Homo sapiens: one gene and its partners. The protein of the gene in region 1 interacts with the protein of each later gene in a biochemical or structural test. Each region holds a gene or a part of one and is shown in the gene's direction. Other genes may lie near its edges. The genes, in order: BDNF, NTRK2 and SORCS2.

Region 1 (3,600 bases):
GGGCAGTGGTGGGGGTGGAGGGCGGGGGAGGATTAACTGAGCCAGTTCTGCCCCCACCCTCGAATCACCTACCCCCACTCTGGTTAAAGCAGAAGACTTTTTATTTATCTTGGCTGCCCTGGTTCGTTATTAAAAGGGTTAGCTTATACGTGTGTTTGCTGGGGCTGGAAGTGAAAACATCTGCAAAAGCATGCAATGCCCTGGAACGGAACTCTTCTAATAAAAGATGTATCATTTTAAATGCGCTGAATTTTGATTCTGGTAATTCGTGCACTAGAGTGTCTATTTCGAGGCAGCGGAGGTATCATATGACAGCGCACGTCAAGGCACCGTGGAGCCCTCTCGTGGACTCCCACCCACTTTCCCATTCACCGCGGAGAGGGCTGCTCTCGCTGCCGCTCCCCCCGGCGAACTAGCATGAAATCTCCCTGCCTCTGCCGAGATCAAATGGAGCTTCTCGCTGATGGGGTGCGAGTATTACCTCCGCCATGCAATTTCCACTATCAATAATTTAACTTCTTTGCTGCAGAACAGAAGGAGTACATACCGGGCACCAAAGACTCGCGCCCCCTCCCCCCTTTAATTAAGCGAAGGGAACGTGAAAAAATAATAGAGTGTGGGAGTTTTGGGGCCGAAGTCTTTCCCGGAGCAGCTGCCTTGATGGTTACTTTGACAAGTAGTGACTGAAAAGGTGGGTTTGTTTTCTTTCTTTCTCTTTCCGTTTTTCTGTTTGGTCGGCTAGAAAGCGTGTGGCTTTAGCGAGGTCTGTCATTGCCTGGGCTTCCTGGCTGGAACAAGTAACTTGGTGTAACGTTATCTGGGGGCGTTCATCAATAAAAAATGCTGTTATTATCTTGATTGAATTCCTATTAGGCAAACTCTAGAGAGGTCAGTGCGCGAACTCTGTTTAAGCCGGCGTGTTTAAGGCAGCAGAGTAAACCAATAGCCCCCATGCTCTGTGCGATTTCATTGTGTGCTCGCGTTCGCAAGCTCCGTAGTGCAGGAAGGTGCGGGAAGGTGTGTCTGTGGCCCGGGAAACGCACGCCCTCTCCCAGAGAACTTGGGTGCTGGGATGGGGAGGAAGGGGAGAGTTGAAAGCTAGGGGAGCGAGACCTCGGGGCGTGCGATTCTCACTCGCTCCCTCCCGCCCCAGCGCCCACAGCCGGGGTTTCTGCAGAGGGCGCGGGACGCGGGGTTCCCCGGGGCTGAGGCTGGGGCTGGAACACCCCTCGAAGCCGCGGGCGTCCTGTCCAAGGCGCCCCAGGAGGGCGCAGGACTCGCAGGGCGATGTCGCGGGGCCCTAGGGGAGGAGGTGAGGACAGGCCCCGGGGGAGCGGGGAGTTCCGGGCGCCCCTCGGTTCCCCGCGCGAGGAAAAGACGCGGCGTTCCCTTTAAGCGGCCGCCTCGAACGGGTATCGGTAGCGCGGGCGAGCGGGGAGCGGGGGGCGGGGGGCGGGGGGGGGGGGGCGGCGCCGTTTGACCAATCGAAGCTCAACCGAAGAGCTAAATAATGTCTGACCCGGGCGCAAGGCGCAGCCTGGAGCTCCGGGTCCCCGACGCTGCCGCCGCCGCGCCCGGGCGCACCCGCCCGCTCGCTGTCCCGCGCACCCCGTAGCGCCTCGGGCTCCCGGGCCGGACAGAGGAGCCAGCCCGGTGCGCCCCTCCACCTCCTGCTCGGGGGGCTTTAATGAGACACCCACCGCTGCTGTGGGGCCGGCGGGGAGCAGCACCGCGACGGGGACCGGGGCTGGGCGCTGGAGCCAGAATCGGAACCACGATGTGACTCCGCCGCCGGGGACCCGTGAGGTTTGTGTGGACCCCGAGGTAGGCAAGCGCTGGGAATGGGGCTTGGTGCAGGAGCTGCCCGTCCGCGGGAGAGAGTTGACTGGGGGATCCCCCACCCCAAAGTTGTGGGACGAGGCCAGTCTCCTTCTTTCCTCCCCTCCGGTAGAAGGGACGATTTGGAGTTACTCTTGGGGAGTTTTCTCCCCCATCCCACAACCCAGAAGGTCAGCCGGCACCACCAGGGAAAAAGGGACCCGGGGAAGTCACGAAGTAGAGGAGGGAAGGCCTGGAGGAGACCCAGAGCTGCGTGATGGGAGCAAAGACGGCGACCCGGGGATCCCTCGCAGCCCTCCCCCAGCCCAGGAGTAGTCGAGAGAGACTTAGGGGGCCAGAGCTGTCGAGGGTCCTGACTGAGGGGAGGGTGCTGGGGCTAGGCTAGGAATCCTTCCAGGGGGTGGGTGGTCCCCGCGCCGACTTGCGGGGGGAGTGGGAGGGAAGCTTGCGCCTTCAGCCCGCATCCCTTCCCCGGAGCTGCACACGGCTACCTGCTCCCCAGGAATTGAGACTGAAGTGGACTTACAAGTCCGAAGCCAATGTAGCTTGGAAAACTTGGGAGGCGGAATTCCTACCGCTGGGAACTGAAAGGGTCTGCGACACTCTCGGGCAGGCCGAACCCACATCTCTACCCATCCTGCGCCCCTCTTCTGAAGCGCCCTCCAGGGAAGTTAAGAGTTTTGACTTTCGGGGAGTGGTTGGGATGTACGTGGGGGATTCTTGACTCGGGTTAGTCTCTGGGGATGCAGAGCCGGGAAGAGGAATGGGTGAGTGAGTTACTCCTGGAAAGAAATAGCTGAGGATTGGGGGCTCTGTGCCTGACGGGCAAGAAGAAGGGGAGATTACAGACTAGGGGCATCCCTAAGGAAGAAGCCTCGGGGCTGCGAGGGTGAACTGGAGGATGCAGTGTTTGTGTGTTGGGGGTAGAGCGGGGATGAGGGACCGGGGTGGAGGGGAGGCGAGGAGGAGGAGGGGACCCAGAGAACGAAGCTAGGGAAGGTAGAGGGTGCCCTCTGCCGGCCATGCTGCCAAGAGCAGCTACTGGGGGCGGGAGGCTGGGGGTGGGGAAGTGGTAAAGGAAGGTTTTGCGGGATCCCTTAGAGAGCTGGTAGGAGGGACTTGTTGAATGGTGCTGCTGACTCCAGCTCGGTGGGGCGTGCGACTCGTCGTCGGTGGATTTTGACTCCTCGTTCTTGTTTGGCTTCTATGCAAGTTTTCCTCGCGCTGGGGGAGCTTTGATAAGCCTCGATTGGCGGTGTGTTAGGGCTTCTTGGATCTTATTTTAGGGTCCTCTAGTTATCCTGCACTTACTCCTTAATGTCAGTAGCAACCAAAGAACATTTTCCGACAAGCACGCAGGAATGTTCTTGGCCAGAAGCAAAGAAAGGCATATTTCTGAGTGTTTATTAATCCTCCTAGTAATCTTTTAAAGCAAAGTAATATGTAATTGGGAACGTTGATTTTCTAACTGCATATAAAAGGCGACATGATATTAAATGAGACCCCTCCCTACTGACTCAATATCCTGCAAAATCTCTCTCTCCCCTTTATTATTATGGAAAAATCTATTTTTATATGAGTTTGTTGTAAGGTCAAAAGCCATTTTGGTCTTACAATTTGATATGTCTTTACATTTTAACTTATTGAGGCATAATTACAGATTTAATTTGTATGAACGTGTGTGCCTTCAATGCTTATCTCATGCAACATAATTTTTAGGTTGGAGATTTCTGATGTTATGGCATGTAGCGTTTCAAGGCA
Region 2 (3,948 bases), on another chromosome or scaffold:
AATGTGAAGACAGAGTATGTTGAATGTGGTGGGGGCCATGGGGAGGGCTGGCATTCTGTGTGTAAGCGAGCCTATATTTCATCTTCCACAGTGGGAGGTCAATAGATACTGCTGAAACAGGAAAACCAACAAGTAGCAATAAAGAATGATACTTAGTGATGAGCAGAGCAATACCAAAAGAAGAAGTTAAAAGAGATGAAATGGGTGCCTCAGGGAACAGGAAATAGTGCCACATGGGTAAGGTGGGACTACTGTTTTTCACACATAGTAGCTTGAATCTTTTTCGTAATTTTTATAGAATTATCAACTCTTGTGACTAAATATTTGATTTTTGAAAAACAAAATTAAGTATATACATATTTTTAAAAGTCACCCAGATTATGCCATTGACTTCAAGGAGATTTTTCACTAAGTAAGCCCATTTCTTCTATTTTGCCTTGACATGCTCTGTAATAAACTGAACAGCTTAATTGTCATAGAAGTTGTGAAGAAAACACATTGAGAAAAACAACAGACTCATCTAAGGCCACAAAGTTAGTATGTGCCAGGTTTAGGGTGTGGGGCTTGTATTACACTCTGTTAATCATTGTTATATATTTCATTGCCCTGTATAACTCTGGCTATTAGGGGCTTTTTTTTTTTTTTTTTTTTTTTTGAAACCCCATGAAAGATGTAACATTGGTCTCTATTGGATGCTTACGGGAAGGAAGAGTTTGGAAGGGGGGGTCTCACTAGCCCCTGAAAGCCAGATCTTATTGGGGAATCCTCTCCCAGTGGTGGGATAACCATGAAATATAGACTGTACAAATCTTATTCCAGTCTGATTTCACTAATAAAGAAAGATGGCTTTGCCGGTAAGAATACATGATAAGAGAAAGGTTTATCCATAATAATGTGAAGACGAAGGGTCAGATATTGCCAGGTGGGTGGGTTAATTGCAATTTAACGGCTGTTGAAAATGAATCGCCTTCTTTGACCTCCAGGTTCTGATCTGAGTTAATGATGTATCATAGTTCTTCAAGACATAGCTGTCGGGTGACTATAGTCCCAAGCAGAGTTCCTGACACCAAGAGAGGGACAGGCTCCACTAGCAGGTCCTGACATATTGTTATACCCTCTAAGACATGCCTACGTGTAAAAATTACCATGATTCTTATGCAGTTTAAAGCAGTGTCCACACTCAGTTGGTGTGATAATTTCATGAAGTGATAGCAGCATCCCTAAAATTACACATAGCTTTTGAAATATAAAAGTATAAAAATGATGCTTTGCTGGACTATTAAAAATGTTTATGAGGTTCAAAGTTTCATCTGATAAATACATTCTCAGAGTCTTTCCAATAAAAAGAACTTTTCACTGAAATGAGTCCAACCCATTTTCATTATATTCCAAACAAGATAGCAATTTTACCTATAATATTTAACTATGATTTATATAACTTTGAAACTTTCTAACACTGCAATAGTTCAAACTGCTTGTCTTTGAAAAATGCTTTGAAACTACATTTTCTTCAATAGAATGAGTCTTTCAAAATCTGTGTCTGGTAGAGGGTTAGATTTGTGAGAGTTACTTAAAGCAAAAAACAGATTTTTGCAAAAACAAAATAGGTGCATCTCACCCTTTTGTGTTCTTGAGCATTAGTAAAAAATGGGGGGTAGGAGACAGGAGGAAATAAAAGACATGATGTCAGTCCTTATGTACAATCTCTGTTTATGTGCAAAAACTGGATTAGTAACTGTAGAACAGGAAAAGAGGTGGAAGACAGTTCTTTATACTAGTGTTCTTGAAATAAAAGGTTATTCGGCAATAATGCTTTAAGTAATGTGCATAATTTATTTTGAAATCTAATTATAGCTTTTTTTGGTTTATGTTAGATCTATGAAGCTGATCAAAGTAGCACTTTTTCAGATCAACAGAAATCAGTCTCAAAAAGCAATTAAAGATTGATTTTTAAAGCATAAACAGTTTTCAATTTATTGCTTTTATTTTGATACTGCATTTAACTATTTGCATATGCCTCTGTTTACTTTTCTTGTTCCATAGGTTTGCCATCTGCAAATCTGGCCGCACCTAACCTCACTGTGGAGGAAGGAAAGTCTATCACATTATCCTGTAGTGTGGCAGGTGATCCGGTTCCTAATATGTATTGGGATGTTGGTAACCTGGTTTCCAAACATATGGTAAGGCTTGTGTTTGGCTGTGTCTTAATAGAGAGACAAGAGTGTTTCAGAATGCGAGAATGTATTAAACCTAGTGATGATCATTTGATATTTTATAAGGCTACATATAGAAATTTACAAAGAGTTTTTGATGTACATTCACTTTCTACTTATTCTTAATTAATAAAGACTAATGCAGGCTTGCATTTTAGTTATGCATACCTAAGAGAGCGAGGAGTCTCTATATCCCTAGTGAGCTCTTTGTATCATCCTGAACAAAGCGAGTGACTTTCCCTGTGGTCTTCTCCCTTGGAGGGAATTCAGGGATCAAGTCAACCTCATGCACTTAGCAATTGAAACCTAGAGAAATAGAATAACTTCTGATTTACTTCTTCGCCTGAGCCCAGTTCAGGCAGAGAAGCTTTTCTAATGCTATATATACATATTTTCTCTAGTTAGGGGAAGAAACCCCAAATCTTGTCACTTTGGGATCAATCCTAATCAAGGTTATTTTTGTCTGTTAATTCATTTGTAGAATGAAACAAGCCACACACAGGGCTCCTTAAGGATAACTAACATTTCATCCGATGACAGTGGGAAGCAGATCTCTTGTGTGGCGGAAAATCTTGTAGGAGAAGATCAAGATTCTGTCAACCTCACTGTGCATTGTACGTAATCAGACTGGCATGTGTTTTTAATAGCAAATGATCATGGACGTACCTACGTTTGTTGCTGGGGCACTCTGGGTGCTGCTTAAATTTGTTAAAAAAAGTATATGCAGTGTTTTGTGCATACTCTATTAAGAAACATTATCAGCCTCTTTTACTGTTCAATTTCTGCTTAATAACTCTTGCTCATGCATGTTTTTTCTTTTAAGCTTCTTTTTCGATTTTGAGCTTGTCATTTTGTGCCTTCCTCTGTCTTTTTTCTGATAGAATATACTTTGGGCTGGTTGCTCCCTCTGGTTAATGTTTTAGCTTAAATTTTCGTAAATCAGTTTCTAAAACTTTCTTCCTCTATAAAAGCAATATGATGCTTTAAAGTTATGATACCTAAAGTATTTACTAGCTGTTCACAAATGCCTAATTGTACTGTTGATAAAATAAAACCTCATTCTTTTGTTATCAAGTTTCTGTGAGAAGGTAGGATTAGTCCTACTTAAATTACTGAAAATTATTATCACCGGTAGAAAACTTTTATTATTATTGTTTTAAATTTCTGTATACATTGAATCTAAGTTCAAAGATATCCCTCTTTTTAATTAAACATAAGTACATTGTTTTTCAGTATTGTAACTAATACAATATACATTTTGAAATTCCAAATTATGGCTTTTAGCATGAAGGTGTATATTCAGTAAAAACTATATAGACACTTCACGTCATTGTAAATTCTGAGCTGGCACGGTATAAATTAATGAGGTTTTACTCTATTTGGATTAGAATTTGGATGAGAAAAACATGAACATGCATGTGTGTAAGTGTATGTCTGACTTACACACGTGTAGACCCATGGCCATAGCTGGTATCAATATGCTGGTTAACACTCACTCATAGCACACATTCAGTGTGTGATTGCTGGAGTGAATGATTGAAATCATCAGCTGTAATCCTTTATCATTGTTAGTACAATCACTATGCCCAGTGGGTACTAAACTCATAATTTCTCATCATTTTGACCCACTCAGAAGCCTGAAGTCAATGTTATCTCCAAACATATGCAAGCACTTTCAACTGTATGTCCTTAAATCAGCACCTAACCCAAAATTCATTTGAGCATGGTGGAAGGA
Region 3 (3,600 bases), on another chromosome or scaffold:
TGAAACACCCATGTTAAGAAGATGAAAGGCAAGCTACAGAGTGAGAGAAAGTATTTGCAAACCACATATCCAACAAGGACCAGTACCTAGACTAGAGGAAGAACACTCAACAGCAAGGAAACAAACCGTCCAGTTAGGAAATGAGCAGAACTGAAAAGACGTTTCACCAGGAGAATGGACAAATGACAGGTAAGCACACGAAAAGATGACAAACGCCATCAGCCGCCAGGGAAGCCCACAGCCAGACATCACTGCGCACCTATCAGAATGGCTGACATTAAAAATAGCGCCAGCATGAAGTACCGGTGAGGATGCAGGGAAGGACACTGGATCACTTACGCATGGCTGGGGAGACTGGAGAATGCCACAGGTGTTCTGGAAAACACTTCAGCAGTTTCTTAACGAACTCAACATGCAACGACCAGAGGACTGAGCACTTGCACTCATGGCGGTCATATCAGAGTAATGAAGACTTCTGTTCACACAAAAACCTGTATGTGTCTGTTCATAGCAGTGTTATTCACAAAGGCCAGAAACTCAAACCGCCCAGGTGCCCTGCAGTGGGTGAATGCACAGGCTGGGGTGCCCCCATGCTGAGATACCATGCTGCAGTGAGAAGGAATCCATTATTAATACCTGCAGCAGGGCCCAGCACGGTGTCTCACGCCTGTGATCCCAGCAGTTTGGGAGGCCGAGGTGGGTGGATCAGCTGAGGTCGGGAGTTCGAGACCAGCCTGGCCAACATGACGAAACCCTGTCTCTGCTAAAAAAAACAAAACTTAGCCAGGTGTGGTGATGCATGCCTGTAATCCCAGCTACTTGGGAGGCTGAGGCTCAAGAATCACTTGAACCTGGGAGTCGGAGGTTGCAGTGAGCCAAGATCCCACCACTGTACTCCAGCCTGGGCAACAGAGTGAGATCCCGTCTTAAAAAAAAAATAATAGTAATACCTGCTTCAACCTGGATGAGCCTCAAGTGGATTATGCCGAGTGAAAAAAGCCACTCCCACATGATCCCCTGCTGTGCCACTCATTCATATAACACTCCTGAAATACAGAAATGGAGAAAGAGAATAGAAATTATCAAAGTTATAGAAATGGAGAAAGACTAATGGTTACCATGGAGTTGGGCTAATGTGCGGAAGTGGGTGTGTCTGCAAAGGGCACCCGGTGGGGTCCTAGTGCTGGCTGAATTGTCCTGTCTCTTTCCTGTATCAGTGTTAACCTCCTAGTCGTGATACTATCATTTGGCAAGATGTTAGCCTTGGGGAGAGCCGGGTACGGGGCACACAGGGTGGATCTGTATCATTCCGTACAACTACATAGGAGCCTACCATTATCTCAGAAGACAATGTTTAATTTTTCTTTAAGCACCAGTAATAATAATGGATATAAATGAAATATACCAGGATGTGAATGGAGGGTATTATGGTGAGATTTAGTTTTGTTCTTTTTCTTTGCTTTACTATTTGTATTTTATATTATTTTCTACCTTGAGAATATACTACTTTTGTGGTCAGGAGAAAAAGACAAGTTATTTTAACCAACTGAAATGTTTAAGAAGTTAAATGTGCATCAGCGCAGCCCTTGAAGGCAGGAACACAAGGCCCCGAGAGGTGGCGCCTCACCCAGGTTGAGCGGATCACGAGTCCTGACTCTGGGTCACACATGCCTTCTCCTTCCCAGGATTAGCACAGGAAACACTTCCCTCCGTGGAAGCAGCTCAGACTTGAGCGCTTCCCCTCATTCCCCGCCCCTCCCTGAGAGGCTGCCTTTAAACAGAAAGAACCACAACCAGCGAGCAGCCTCCTGGGTCCTGGGCTTTGGAGAGCCTCAGTCTTCTAACCTGTCAAATGGGGAGAACGGAGCACCCTGCAGCCTCCTTCCTAGGGACCCCATAACAAATTATCTCATGCCGGGTGGCCTGAACCCACACAAGTCTCCGAAGGAGAATCCATTTGCACCTCCTCCAGCTTCCAGGGCTCCCGGCACTCCTTGGCCCCTGACAGAGTCACTCCTGCCTTTGCCTTCACCTCCACGCAGCCTCTGTCCGTGCCCAAATCTCCCTCTCCTTTCTCTTACACAGATGCCTGTCACTGGATTTAGGGCCCACCCTAATCCAGTATGACCTCATCTTAGCTAATGACACCTGTAAAGACCCTATTTCCAAATGAGGTCACATTCTGAGGTTCCCGGTAGACGTGAATTTTGGGGAGACACTGACCAGCTCAATTTACCACATCTGTGGAGAAAGTTAAGTGAACAGAATTTACGTAAAAGTTTTCTATCAACTTACAACGTTTGGCTGGTATAAACTGAGAAGATGGCTAAGTGGTTAGTAATCACGCTGTTTCCTCCATCATCACTAGGAAACGGTTTCCTCGTGCCCCTGGTGCCGGCGAGGGAGGAAGAGGGAAGGGGAGGAGAGGAGGAAGGGAGGGAGGGAGAATGTGATCATGAGCCATAAATCGAAGAAGTTCCTGTTTCCTTCACTCAATCCCCCACCTCTGCGAGGGAAATGCGGTTATTGGAAGGTGGAAGGAGATGGTGGAGCGGCCTCTCTGGGTGACTCGGTGCCACGCGGGGATGGCAGTTGGTGGGAGCTCCTCTCTGCACTCACCCTGCCCCATCTCAGCGTCACTCCTGGTACCGCATGGTCTGAGAAAGAGAAAATTAAGAACCGCAGCTTCCCAGAAAGGAAAATCCTGCTTGGTTTCCAGGCAGGCGGCTTAGGCACTTCCAGATGTGTTCCTCTCCCCTGCCGAAACCCTCCTCGCAGTGGGAGGCCCCTCACCTTCCTGGCTCCATCCCTAGCACGGGCCTCTGTGGGTCTCCCCCGGGCCCTGACTGCCCCCCAGCTGCTCTCTGATGACACCCTTGGGCCTCTCCCTCTCCCTCTCTGCCGCTGGGTGATTGTTCTGAAATATCCCTTGGCCACAGCCCCTAGTTAAACCAGCTGCCTTGGTCAGCCCCATACTCCAGGAAGAATCTCCAGGGCAGAACCAGGCCCGGTCTCCTGTGGGTCCCCAGAGCCCACTCATGTCAAGGAAGGGAGGGCGGCAATGAATGAATGAGTGAGTGAGTGAGTGAGTGAATGAACCACTCTGGCCCCTCAGCTTCAAGGCCCACTCCTGAGTGGCCACATGGTGTTTCTCTGCAGGGTGATGTCCTGACTACCAAGTACCAGGTAGACCTTGGGGACGGCTTCAAGGCCATGTACGTGAACCTTACACTGACCGGGGAGCCCATCCGGCACCGCTACGAGAGCCCCGGCATCTACCGCGTGTCCGTCAGGGCAGAGAACACGGCAGGCCACGATGAGGCGGTGCTCTTTGTCCAGGTCAACTGTAAGTTTATTGCCCCTTTGAGGCCAAAGGTCACTCCCTTTGAGAGAGAGAACCTGGCTTTGGGGGAAACACAGGGAAGCCCCCGGGATTGCTCTAGGCCCCTGGTACTCAGGACGGTGAACCCGAGGGCAGGGAGGCAGGGAGGCTGGGCTCAAACCCGCACCCCTGATGACCCATACAATAGTAGGGCAGAGCTGGTAGCTGGTGGTGATATTGATGATAGTGGTGGTGATGGTGGTGGTGGTGGTGGTGGT

Evidence for each region.
Region 2: the proteins of BDNF (region 1) and NTRK2 form a complex in vitro, tested with the Homo sapiens proteins (3 studies listed by BioGRID).
Region 3: the proteins of BDNF (region 1) and SORCS2 interact in a biophysical measurement, tested with the Homo sapiens proteins (one study listed by IntAct).

Annotation. Positions count from the first base shown.
Region 1 is NC_000011.10:27,698,388-27,701,987, reverse strand, and holds the start of BDNF (neurotrophic factor BDNF precursor form isoform a preproprotein), read left to right. Parts: upstream 1-1,532; 5' UTR 1,533-1,824; intron 1,825-2,320; exon of another isoform or gene 2,321-2,582; coding exon of another isoform or gene 2,583-2,606; intron 2,607-3,600. UniProt on the Homo sapiens protein: Important signaling molecule that activates signaling cascades downstream of NTRK2. During development, promotes the survival and differentiation of selected neuronal populations of the peripheral and central nervous systems.
Region 2 is NC_000009.12:84,721,530-84,725,477, forward strand, and holds part of NTRK2 (BDNF/NT-3 growth factors receptor isoform a precursor), read left to right. Parts: intron 1-2,043; coding exon 2,044-2,180; intron 2,181-2,694; coding exon 2,695-2,827; intron 2,828-3,948. UniProt on the Homo sapiens protein: Receptor tyrosine kinase involved in the development and the maturation of the central and the peripheral nervous systems through regulation of neuron survival, proliferation, migration, differentiation, and synapse formation and plasticity.
Region 3 is NC_000004.12:7,720,538-7,724,137, forward strand, and holds part of SORCS2 (VPS10 domain-containing receptor SorCS2), read left to right. Parts: intron 1-3,159; coding exon 3,160-3,346; intron 3,347-3,600. UniProt on the Homo sapiens protein: The heterodimer formed by NGFR and SORCS2 functions as receptor for the precursor forms of NGF (proNGF) and BDNF (proBDNF). ProNGF and proBDNF binding both promote axon growth cone collapse (in vitro).